3 linked regions of the Homo sapiens genome follow. The protein of the gene in region 1 purifies or fractionates together with the protein of each later gene. This does not show direct contact. Each region holds a gene or a part of one and is shown in the gene's direction. Other genes may lie near its edges. The genes, in order: IRF4, PRRC2B and RIPK2.

Evidence for each region.
Region 2: the proteins of IRF4 (region 1) and PRRC2B purify together in Homo sapiens (affinity purification with mass spectrometry, with the first as the bait; one large-scale study listed by BioGRID). This does not show direct contact.
Region 3: the proteins of IRF4 (region 1) and RIPK2 purify together in Homo sapiens (affinity purification with western blotting; one study listed by BioGRID). This does not show direct contact.

The regions. Positions count from the first base shown.
Region 1 is NC_000006.12:401,684-405,334, forward strand, and holds part of IRF4 (interferon regulatory factor 4), read left to right. Parts: coding exon 1-94; intron 95-3,334; coding exon 3,335-3,447; intron 3,448-3,651. UniProt on the Homo sapiens protein: Transcriptional activator. Binds to the interferon-stimulated response element (ISRE) of the MHC class I promoter. Binds the immunoglobulin lambda light chain enhancer, together with PU.1.
Region 2 is NC_000009.12:131,400,573-131,404,223, forward strand, and holds part of PRRC2B (protein PRRC2B), read left to right. Parts: intron 1-3,651.
Region 3 is NC_000008.11:89,785,284-89,788,934, forward strand, and holds part of RIPK2 (receptor-interacting serine/threonine-protein kinase 2), read left to right. Parts: intron 1-1,309; coding exon 1,310-1,403; intron 1,404-3,651.

The DNA.
Region 1 (3,651 bases):
TGGGACGGGCCCCTGGCGCTGTGCAACGACCGGCCCAACAAACTGGAGAGAGACCAGACCTGCAAGCTCTTTGACACACAGCAGTTCTTGTCAGGTAAGGCACCTCGTTATCTGTTAGAATGGAGGTGGTGATGGCCTGCCTGCCACAGGGGTCAGAAACCACAGGGTCCCTCCCACCCCAGGCTGAGGTCTTCCTCCTGTTGACTTCGGCGCCCACTGGGCTTGGGGCTTGACTCCAGTAGAGATCTTCTGTCTGGCTCTGTTGTGGGCAGAGAGTCCGGATCAGATGGTCCAGGTGGACCATGGCTCAGGCTGTTCTCTTGCAATTCTGGTTTTCAGCAGTCGCCTCTTAAAACAGTTCCATTTCATTGCACTATGATCTCGACAAATACGTCTGCTGATGTGGCGGCTCTTTTCAGGTTCCCAGAAAAATCATAAAGGTTGGAAGCATATTGTTAACATTCTTGGTTGTCAGGTGTGTCACCCTCATGCAGATGCTGGCCCACGAGTGAGACGGAGGGTGGAGTGGACTGTACTGGTTTTGCACAGGAGAAGTTATAGGAGAGTGCTATAAGTTGGCTCTGTGATATGAACATTTCTAAGCATATTTTTCAGAACCAGTGAGTTTTGTTTTTCTACCTTGGATTTCATGACAATTCAGCGAACCTCTGGCTGGCTTCTGTGAAGCCCCTCGCCCTGTCATGCTGGGCTTCCTCACTGGCTTTGTGGGGCTGTCCAGGTGGAGGGAGCCTCCCGCGTGGGAGGGAGCTGCTCTACCCGCCACTCGCCACCCCACCGCCAACTCTTCCTCTGCCTTTTCCCAGTCCTGTCCCTTCCTGAGCCCCTTCAGAAACTCCTGTGTCTTTGATTTCTCATGTGCCTCCCCTTTTCTTGAATGTGCTTCTTCATTCAACTTATTTAAAATAAAAATATGACACGTCTGTGTGCTCTGGCACTGTTGACATGTGCTCGTACTTCTGGGTGTAAGTGACCCAAGTTTTTGTAAGCTCATCCAGATTTTCTTTTGGTGCCCAAAGCAAATATGTCCCCAGATAACTAAGCTTCAGGCCAGGTGTGGTGGCCCATGCCTGTAATCCCAGCACTTTAGGAGGCTGAGGTGGGCAGATCACTTGAGGCCAGGAGTTCAAGACCAGCCTGGCCAACATGGCAAAACCCCGTCTCTACTAAAGATACAAAAATTAGCTGGGCGTGATGGTGGGCGCCTGTAATCCCAGCTACTCAGGAGGATGAGGCACAAGAATCGCTTGAACCTGTGGGAGGCGGAGGTTGCAGTGAGCTGAGATCGCACCACGGTGCTGCAGTTTGCAGGACAGAGCGAGACTCCATTGCCCCCCGCACCACAAAAAAATAACTAAGCTCACACAGAGGCTGACCATAGGAAGAGGGAGAACTGTGCTGGTTCCCCGAGGCGGCGGCAAGTGAGGAAGTCACCTGGGGCTGGACACCTCTCATTCTAAGGGCAGAACCATCCCCAAGCCCTGGCCAGGGCGGTCCCATCCTTCTTGGGGTTGGGCATGGTGTTCATGGGGGACCAAGGAAATTGAAGGGCAACTGGGGGGACCCCCCCTCCCCTGTCAGCATCTCCTGTGTCTGCCTTGGGATCTGGAAGAGCTCACATGGGCCAGGAAGGCTAAGGCCCACTGGGCCTGGATTTCTGAAGACTCTGGACCTTGGTGCCAGTGGATTCAGAAGATACCACAAGGTGAGGGCTTTCTAATGAAAGTGTCACAAGGAACTGGCACTGGCTTTTCTGAGTGCCTCTTGCTGGGCGTTTTTAGGGAGGTAGAGCCCCCGTGGTGACTAAGCTGGAAGGTGCACATTGAGTCACAGGTGCACTGCGTGAGAGACAGCACAGGCAGGGGGTGGACGCCTGTGAGTGTCCTGGGGCTGTAGACTTGCGCGACTAGAACTTACTATTAATCTGTGAGCAAGAGCTGGTCTTGGCTTTCATTCCTTCCTCTGTAACCAAGGGCTGTGCTCTTTGCCCACTGCAGCCTCTCACCTCAAAGTGTTCACTGAGGTTCAAGGAGGATGCTGTGAACGTAAAAACTGCAGCTGTGCCAACCAGCTTCTGCATAATTAAGGATTCCCACCAAACACTCTCATGTTATCTAGGGTTGGAGCCATGCTTTCTCAGAGAATTGTGCCAACTCGCCATTCTGATTAGCCTGTGTAGGTGTAGTCTCAGATCACGGCAGTGTGAATGTATTTTACAGATTCTGACTAAGTCATTTGGGTTTGATTTGAATTCTGGAAAAAAAAAAAAGCAGGAAGTCAAATAGTCCTGTAAGTTAGCTAGAAACTTCTGTTCAGTTGAAGAGAACAGTGGAGATCTTTGATATCTTCCTATTCAGGTCTGCACAGCACTAGGGACAGCCCCCAGGGCCCGGCCCGAGGGTGTGTATCTGATAAGGACGCGTCTGTTCTGCAGAAGCTGTAGCGGCTCCTGTGTCAACTCGTTTCTTTTGCGGGCGTGACATTTTATTGTAGCTACAGGCAGAAGATTTGTCTTGTGTACAGGGGAGGGAGCATGGGCTAAAGTCAGGGGATGGGCACTTGTCTTTCCAACAATGTTCCAGTCCGTTTTGTATCTTTTGGGTAGGTGTGGTGGCTTCAGGATGTACATGTGTATATCCACAAGCGGGAGGCCAGGGGGGCTGCCCCACTCCTGTTCTCAAGTCAAGTTACTGTTCCATCCCTGGAGACAGGCAAGAAGTCTACTCAGAGTTACACAGTTCAGGCATAGTGACAGTGGGACTCAGCTGCCGATGGCTGGTGCTCAGTCACCACGTTGACGTTACATATTTTCTGTGGTGCCTGAGTTACGTGGATGTCCGCAGTAGCACAGATACTGGATTATGTGGGCTCTGTAGTGAGGGGATGAGGTTTTAAAATGATCCTGGGATGTCGAAACATTCTGATTTTTTAAATGAAAACTTGTCCATGGCATAAATTGGTCTTTTGCCATTGCGTGACTACGTTTCTTGTTCTTTATCTCCCGACTTCACTGTGGTCTACTACCTTTTGAATCTTCGTGGGTCCAATGCTGCAAAGCAGTGTTCTTTAGCTGTCGACTAGTTCCTCTTGAAGAATCGAGGGAGACCGAGGGCCCTGGGGGGAAAGCACCCAAAGGAATGCATACATGCTATTTTGTATCTGAGATGTTCACATCAAGAGCCCCACTCAGCGGAGTAAGAGTGCTCATTCCTCTTGCAGTGTTCAGAATCACAGTAAGCTCTTGCTTCCTGTTTAACCTGGTGTGTTCGGTGATGAGGGTTTCTGAACATGGTCTCTTTCTTGTGGGCTTCTACAGAGCTGCAAGCGTTTGCTCACCACGGCCGCTCCCTGCCAAGATTCCAGGTGACTCTATGCTTTGGAGAGGAGTTTCCAGACCCTCAGAGGCAAAGAAAGCTCATCACAGCTCACGTGAGTCCTCAGTTACACTCCTACCATAGTGGCTTCCTGTTCTTTGTAAAGGCCAGAGTTTCATTTAGAAAAGTCCCAAATGAAAAGTAAATGTCAAATGACCTGGAAAAATAAGCGTAACCCTTAAACTAGTGAGGGAGGAAGCATGGTCCAACGAGCAGCACAGTCTGAGGACTCACGTGCTCCTCCCAGACTTGAGATCTG
Region 2 (3,651 bases), on another chromosome or scaffold:
CTCCCAAAGTGCTGGGATGACAGGTGTGAGCCACCGTGCCTGGACACCCAGGCTGTTTCAGACTCCTGGACTCAAGTGATCCCTCCGCCTCCGCCTATCAAAGTGCTGGGATTACAGGCATGAGCCACGGCACCCAGCAAGGCAGCCTCTTTCATGAGCCACTAGGTTCTGGGGGGTCTCAGTCCTGGTTAAGCCCTTTGATGAGTGGGGCTTGAGGTCTTACTCCATTTACTGGTTTGAACCTGGAGAAGCCTTTTGTCTTAAACAGTTTTTGTTTCTAGGGACATGGATGCCCCATTGACTCCTGGGGAGATCCTGGTCTGGTGGGGAGGAGGCCCTGGAGAGCCCCCCACCTAACTTTGGCCTCATCCTCTTGTGGTTTCTTTCTTTCTTTTTTTTTTTTTTTGAGACGGAGTTTTGCTCTTGTTGCCTAGGCTGGAGAGCAATGGCGCGATCTTGGCTCACTGCAACCTCTACCTCTCGGGTTCAAGCGATTCTCCTGCCTCAGCCTCCTGTGATTTCTTCGGAGCCCCCTACAGTTTCTCTTTATAGCAGTTTTCACAACTTGTAAATAGGTGTTTTTTTCTTTATTTGAATTTTAAAAATTGTGGTGAAGTATACATAACATAAAATTTACCATTTTTAAGTGTACAGTTGAGTGGCGTGAAGCACTTTCACAGTGTTGTGCAACCATCACCACCATCCATCTCCAGAACGTTCTCATCTTCCCAAACTGAAACTCTGTTCCCATTAGATGCCAACTCCCCTCCCCCATCCAGTGGCGGCGGCCACCATTCTTACCATTCTTTCTCCTTTTTTTTTTTTTTTTGAGATAGGGTCTCACTGTCGCCCAGGCTGGAGTGCAGTGGCACGATCTTGGCTCACTGCAACCTCAGCCTCTTGTGTAGCTGGGATTACAGGCACACGCCACCACACCCAGCTAATTTTTGTATTTTTTTGTAGAGACGGGGTTTCACCATGTTGGCTAGTCTGGTGTCGAACTCCTGGCCTTAAGTGGTTTGCTTACCTCAGCCTCCCAAAGTGCTGGGATTACCGGCATGAGCCACCGTGCCTGGCCTAGTTTTTGTATATTTTATTTTATTTTATTGAGACAGAGTTTTGATGTTGCCCAGGCTGGAGTGCAATGGCGCGATCTCGGCTCACTGCAGCCTCTGCTTCCTGGGTTTAAGAGATTCTCCTGCCTCAGCCTCCCGAGTAGCTGGGATTACAAGCGCCTGCCACCATGCCCAGCTAATTTTTGTATTTTTAGTGGAGACGGGGTTTCACCATGTTGGCCAGGCTGGTCTCGAACCCCTGACTTCAGGTGATCTGCCCACCTCGACTTCCCAAAGTGCTGGGATTACAGGCGTGAGCCACTGTGCTTGGTCTAATTTTTGTATTATTGTTATTATTTTTGAGACAGAGTCTCGTTATGTCTCCCAGGCTGGAGTGCAATGGCACGATCTCGGCTCACTGCACCTCTACCTCCCGGGTTCAAGCGATTCTCCTGCCTCAGCCTCCTGAATAGCTGGGATTACAGGTCTGGCTAATTTTTGTATTTTTAGGAGAAACGGAGTTTCGCCATGTTGGCCAGGCTGGTCTCGAACTCCTGAGCTCAAGCGATTTGCCTGCCTCGGCTTCCCAGAGTGCTGGAATTACAGCCATGTGTAATCCCATGGTGGCAATGTTGAGCCACCTTGCCCTGCCAACCATTTTACTTTCTTTCTGTGAAACCGAATACTCTTAAGTACCTCATGTAAGTGAGATCATCCAGTATTTGTCATTTTGTGTCTGGCTTATTTTTAGCATAGTATTTCCAAGGTTCATCCATGTTGCAGCATGTGTCAGAACTAACTTCATTCTTAAGGCAGAATAATATTCTCTTATTTGCATGTATCTACCACATTTTATTTATTCATTCAGCGACGGGCAGCAGCCTGTAGATAGTTTTGTTTTCATGTATTGAATGGTCCTTTCCCCCAGTGGAGTGAGTAAATGCATCCGGAAGCAGAATTCTGTTGTTTCCCATTCATCACTGTGTGCCAGGTGTCTGAGAAGGGGGTCTTATAGGAGCCCACGCAGAAACCAAGCTCACCTCAGTCTGGGTGTGGGGCAGTCAGGGAAGGCATTCTGGAAAATGTAGCTGACTCGAAATAAGCACCTATTGAAAATAGTGTGCTGAGCCCTGGAACATTAAAAATGTGTTCCTATGTGGAAATCAGAAATGTATGGGTCCCAGAAGAGAACTTGTGGGTCAGCCTGCTTTCCAGAGAGTGCCGAGGCCCTTTGAATGGTGAACATTATGCAAGCATTCTTGTATGGCCAGTGGCCAGCAGGGAGGAGGGCAGAGAATGACTGTGCCTCCGGGAAGCCGGCGTCAACTTCCCGACACGCTTCAGGATCATCTCTTTGTATAGAACCATGGGATGGATCGCTGCAGGACCTACTGGAAAAAGGAGGTCATCTCCAGGACTCTTTCCATGGGTCCTTTGTGTCTTGCAGAACTTTTTTCGGCAGGTGTTGTTTACATATGGTTCAGAGCTTAAAGAACAGCTGTGTTCCAGGCCAGGGCAGAAAGCACAGGCCTGTCTGGGAGGGGCATCATCACTCCTGCCTGCCTGCCCAACCGACCTGTCGGTGGACTGAATGGGCCAAGTGTTCAGAAGTCCTTGGGAAGAGGATAGTGTCCTGAATCATAATGTGGTATTTTCTGGTTTTTTGTTTGTTTGTTTGTTTTTGGTAAAATGTTAATTGCAGAAGTATACAGGTTATTTTATTTATTTATTTATTTTTTTTTGAGGTGGAGTCTTGCTCTGTTGCCCAGGCCGGAGTGCAGTGGCATGATCTCGGCTCACTGCAACCTCCACCTCCCAGGTTCAAGCAATTCCCCTGCCTCAGCCTCTTGAGTAGCTGGGAGTACAGGTGCATCCCGCCACGCCTGGCTAATTTTTTTTTGTATTTTAGTAGAGATGGGGTTTCGCCTTGTTGCCCAGGCTGGTCGCAAACTCCTGAGCTCAGGCCATCTGTCCACCTCAGCCTCCCAAAATGCTAGAATTACAGGCGTGAGCCACTGCGCCTGGCCCATACTTTAAAAAAAAAAAAAAAAACAAAATTAAAAGCCAAGTGTTTGAAGAGAAATGAAAGCTTTTCCCCAATGTCCCAGGCAGTAACCATTATTGATAAATTTGCTTTGTTTATCCTTCTAGGCTCAGTGCACGTATAAATATGGCCTCATGTAGGGAGGTTTTTTAAAAAACAAAAATGGGATATACTATATTGTATTGCAACTTGGCATTTTCAAAATATCACAGTATTTTTCCATACGTATTTTTAAGCGTAACTTCTCTTATTTTTATTTTCAGTAATACTTTTTTTTTCTTCCTTAGGGATGTGGGGGTGGGTCTCGCTATGTTGACCAAGCTTGTCTTGAACTCCTGGCCTCAAGCTGTCTTCCCATCTTGGCCTCTGAAAGTGCTAGGATTACAGGTGTAAGCCACCACACCCAGCCATTTTTCCATATTCATGTGAACAGACCTGCCACACTAAGTGTTTTAAAAATAATGTTAGGTTTCTAAAAAATATACAGGTGTGTAAAAGAAGAAAAAATCGTTTATAATCCCATGGTTTAGATATTCCCAGTTGACTTTTTTT
Region 3 (3,651 bases), on another chromosome or scaffold:
GGCCAACATGACAAAACCCCATCTCTACTAAACATATAAAAATTAGCTGGGCATGGTGGCGCATGCCTGTAATCCCAGCTACTCGGGGGGTTGAGGCAGGAGAATTGCTTGAACAAGCCAAGATCGCACCACTGCAGTCCACCCTGGGCGACTCCACCTCAAAAAAAAAAACTTTGTTTCAGGTATAAAATTATTTTAAAATATTGAATTAAGTTACCTTCAGGCTGTGTGTATAAGGTGTATATGAAACATAAATGAATTTTATATTTAGACTTGGGTCCCAACCCCAAGATATCTCGTTATATATATACAAATATTCCAAAATCTGAAAAAAATCCAAAATTCCAAACACTTCTGGTTCCAAGCATTTCAGATAAGGGATATTAAACCTGTAGTATCTTTAAAACGAACCTTAAAGCATAGTATATCACATTTTTAATCACTTGATGTACAGTATTTCATTTGATCTTTGAGGCCATTCATGCATATTTTTAGATAGACAGTGCGGATAATAGAGCCAAAAACCTGAGAGCCAGAGAGGTTAAATACCTTATTGAAAGTTAGCTAGTGATTCCATGACAGAGCTAGGAGTAAAATTCTCCATTACTTTTTCCATGTTTTCCTGTGCCTCCATGTGGAAGGAACCTGAGGTGCTGAGAACAGGCATTTCTAAATCTGTAGGAGACCAGACTTGCAGATACCAAATTTCTCATTCACTATTCTAGCTACTGGCTGCAGCATCTGAGATCGTGTAGAAAATACTGAAAAAATAATTATTTCTAATGTTTCATTATTCCCCTATTTCGCCCATTTGTGTTAATTAAGAAAATAAGTTTATCTTTGTTGGTTATTTTATAGATGTATGTGTTTCTTTAATTTTGTAAAGTATAATTTTTAGTAGTTTTGTAGGTTGGGCACAATGGCTCACACCTGTAATTCCAGCACTTTGTGTGGCCAAGGCTGGTGGATCACTTGATCGCAGGAGTTTGAGACCAGCCTGGGCAACGTAGCGAAACCCCATTTCTACGAAAGATACAAAATTTAGCATGGTATGGTGGTGTGCACCTATAATCCCAGCTATTAAGGAGGCTGAGATGGGAGGTTCACCTGAGTTCAGGAGGGTGGGGCTGCAGTGAGCCTAGGTTGTGCCACTGCACTCCAGACTGGGCAACAGAGTGAGACCCTGTCTGAAAAAAAAAAATTAGTAGTTTTTATCTTCATTTGTGATAAGCCACAAACAAGAACTATTTAGAAATTAAAGCTCGATAATTTTTATTAACCTAAACCCTTTATTTTTTATTTACTTTAGGAATCATGTGGATCCTCTCAGCTCCATGAAAATAGTGGTTCTCCTGAAACTTCAAGGTCCCTGCCAGCTCCTCAAGACAATGATTTTTTATCTAGTATGTAGATTTTCCAATCATTATTTACTTGCAAGTTTTCCATTTTCTTTCAAGATCAAATTTTTGCAAGCAGTCATGATTTCTATGGAACTTTAATTTGCATATATAACTCATTTTGTAAAGCGACAGAGTCTAAAGATAGGAAAATAGTAGTGTGATATTCAACAAATACATTTAAGTTTTAAGGCATTATGTTTGGCCAGGCGCAGTGGTTCACACCTATAATCCCAGCATGTTGGGTGGCCAAGGTGGGCAGATCACCTGAGGTCAGGAGTTCGAGACCAGCCTGGCCAACATGGTGAAACCCCATCTCTACTAAAAATACAAAAATTAGCCAGGCATGGTGGTGGGCACCTGTAGTCTCAGCTACTTCGGAGGCTGAGGCGGAAAGATCGCTTGAACCTGGGAGGGAGGTTGCAGTGAGCCGAGATTGCACCACCACACTCCATCCTGGGCGACAGAGTGAGACTCTGTGTCAAAAAATAAATTTTAAAAAACAGGCATTATGTTAGACACTGCCAGAAAATGTCCGCAAAAAAATCTCTTACAAGAAAAAGGAGAAATGTTTCTAAATAACTATTATATGAGATAGTGATATAAGAGAGACGTGGATCTAGAGCTATGGTAGTACAGTGGAAGAGTAACACTGTACAAAGGACTTTCACAACAACCTTGTGAGAGAAATGTCCTCATTTTACACATTTAAGGACTCTGGATCACATAGCTAGTAGCTGGCACATCTAAGACTTTTGATAAATATTATCATGTCACTCTACTCTACCATGTTGTCATCATGAAATTATTTCTGGCTGAAGGCTGGATCTGTAATTACAAAGGATAGGCATTCCAGGCAAAAGGAACAACATACAGGTACAGAAGCAAGAAAATACAGAGAACAGTGAGTAATTTGGTTTAGCTAGTAAAGAAGGTGAATGAAAGAAGTAAGAGCTAAGTAGATTGGAGTCATATCATCAAGAATTCTAACTTTCAGCTGAACTATTTGGACTTTTTTACTTGAGTAGGAAGCAACTATTGCAATTTTTTGAGCAAGGGAGTGACATAAAATTTTTTACTTTGGGGAGATTCATTCTGGCTGGAATGTGTAGGATATTTTGAAAGGAAAAGGAAACTTGAGATGGGGAGATCAGTTAGGAGACTATTACTGTAGTACCCGTGAGAGATTATTAAGAACCGATACAGAATGAAAGAAAGGAGGGGTGGTATGTGAGATGTTATAGACAACTAGATGATAGGACTTTGTAACTTTTCACTTAGAGGAGCGATGAGAGAAAAAAGAGGTAAAGCCAAATAAATTGTTAAGCCTGGGGACTGGGAGAACATTGGTGCCATTAAAAGAAATAGAAGTTAAAACAGGCTGCATGCGGTGGCTCACACCTGTAATCCCAGCATTTTGCAAGGCCAAGGTGGGCAAATCACTTGAGGCCAGGAGTTCAAGACCAGCCTGGCCAACATGCCAAAACCCCATCTCTACTAAAAATACAAAAAAATTAGCGGGTATGGTGGTGCACACCTGTAATCCCAGCTCCTCAGGAGGCTGAGGCACAAGAATCACTTGAACCTGGGAGGCAGGGGTTGCAGTGAGCTGAGATTGCGCCACTGCACTCCATCCTGAGTGACAGAGCAAGATTCTATCTCAATTAAAAAAAAAAAAAGTTAAAACAAGTTTTAGAGTTAAGACGGATAATTATACTTTTAATGTTTTTGTTTTTGTTTTTAATTTGAGGTACTAGGAGCACACAAAGGGTTGATGGCCAGAGGGCTTTTGAAAATATAACACTAAGGTTCATGGCTGAGTGTAGTGGCTCACACCTGTAATCCTAGAACTTTGGGAGGCTGAGACAGGTGGATCACCTGAGGTCACGAGTTCAAGACCAGCCTGGCCAACATGGTGAAATTCCATCTCTACTAAAAATACAGAAATTAGCCAGTTGTGGTAGCATGCAACTGTAATCCCAGCTACTTAAGAGGCTGAGGCAGGAGAATCGCTTGAACCTGAGAGGTGGAGGTTGCAGTGAGCTGAGATCGCAACCATTGCACTCCAGCCTGGGTGGCAAAAGCAAAACTCCATCTAAGAAAGAGAGAGAGACAGAGAGAGAGAGAGAGGGAGGGAGGGAGGCAGGGAGGGAGGAAGGAAGGAAGGAAAGAAGGAAGGAAGGAAATATAAGACGAAAGTTCAATGAAGACAGAAAATGTAATTGCGTGGATTTGGGAATAGAGGGGATGATTA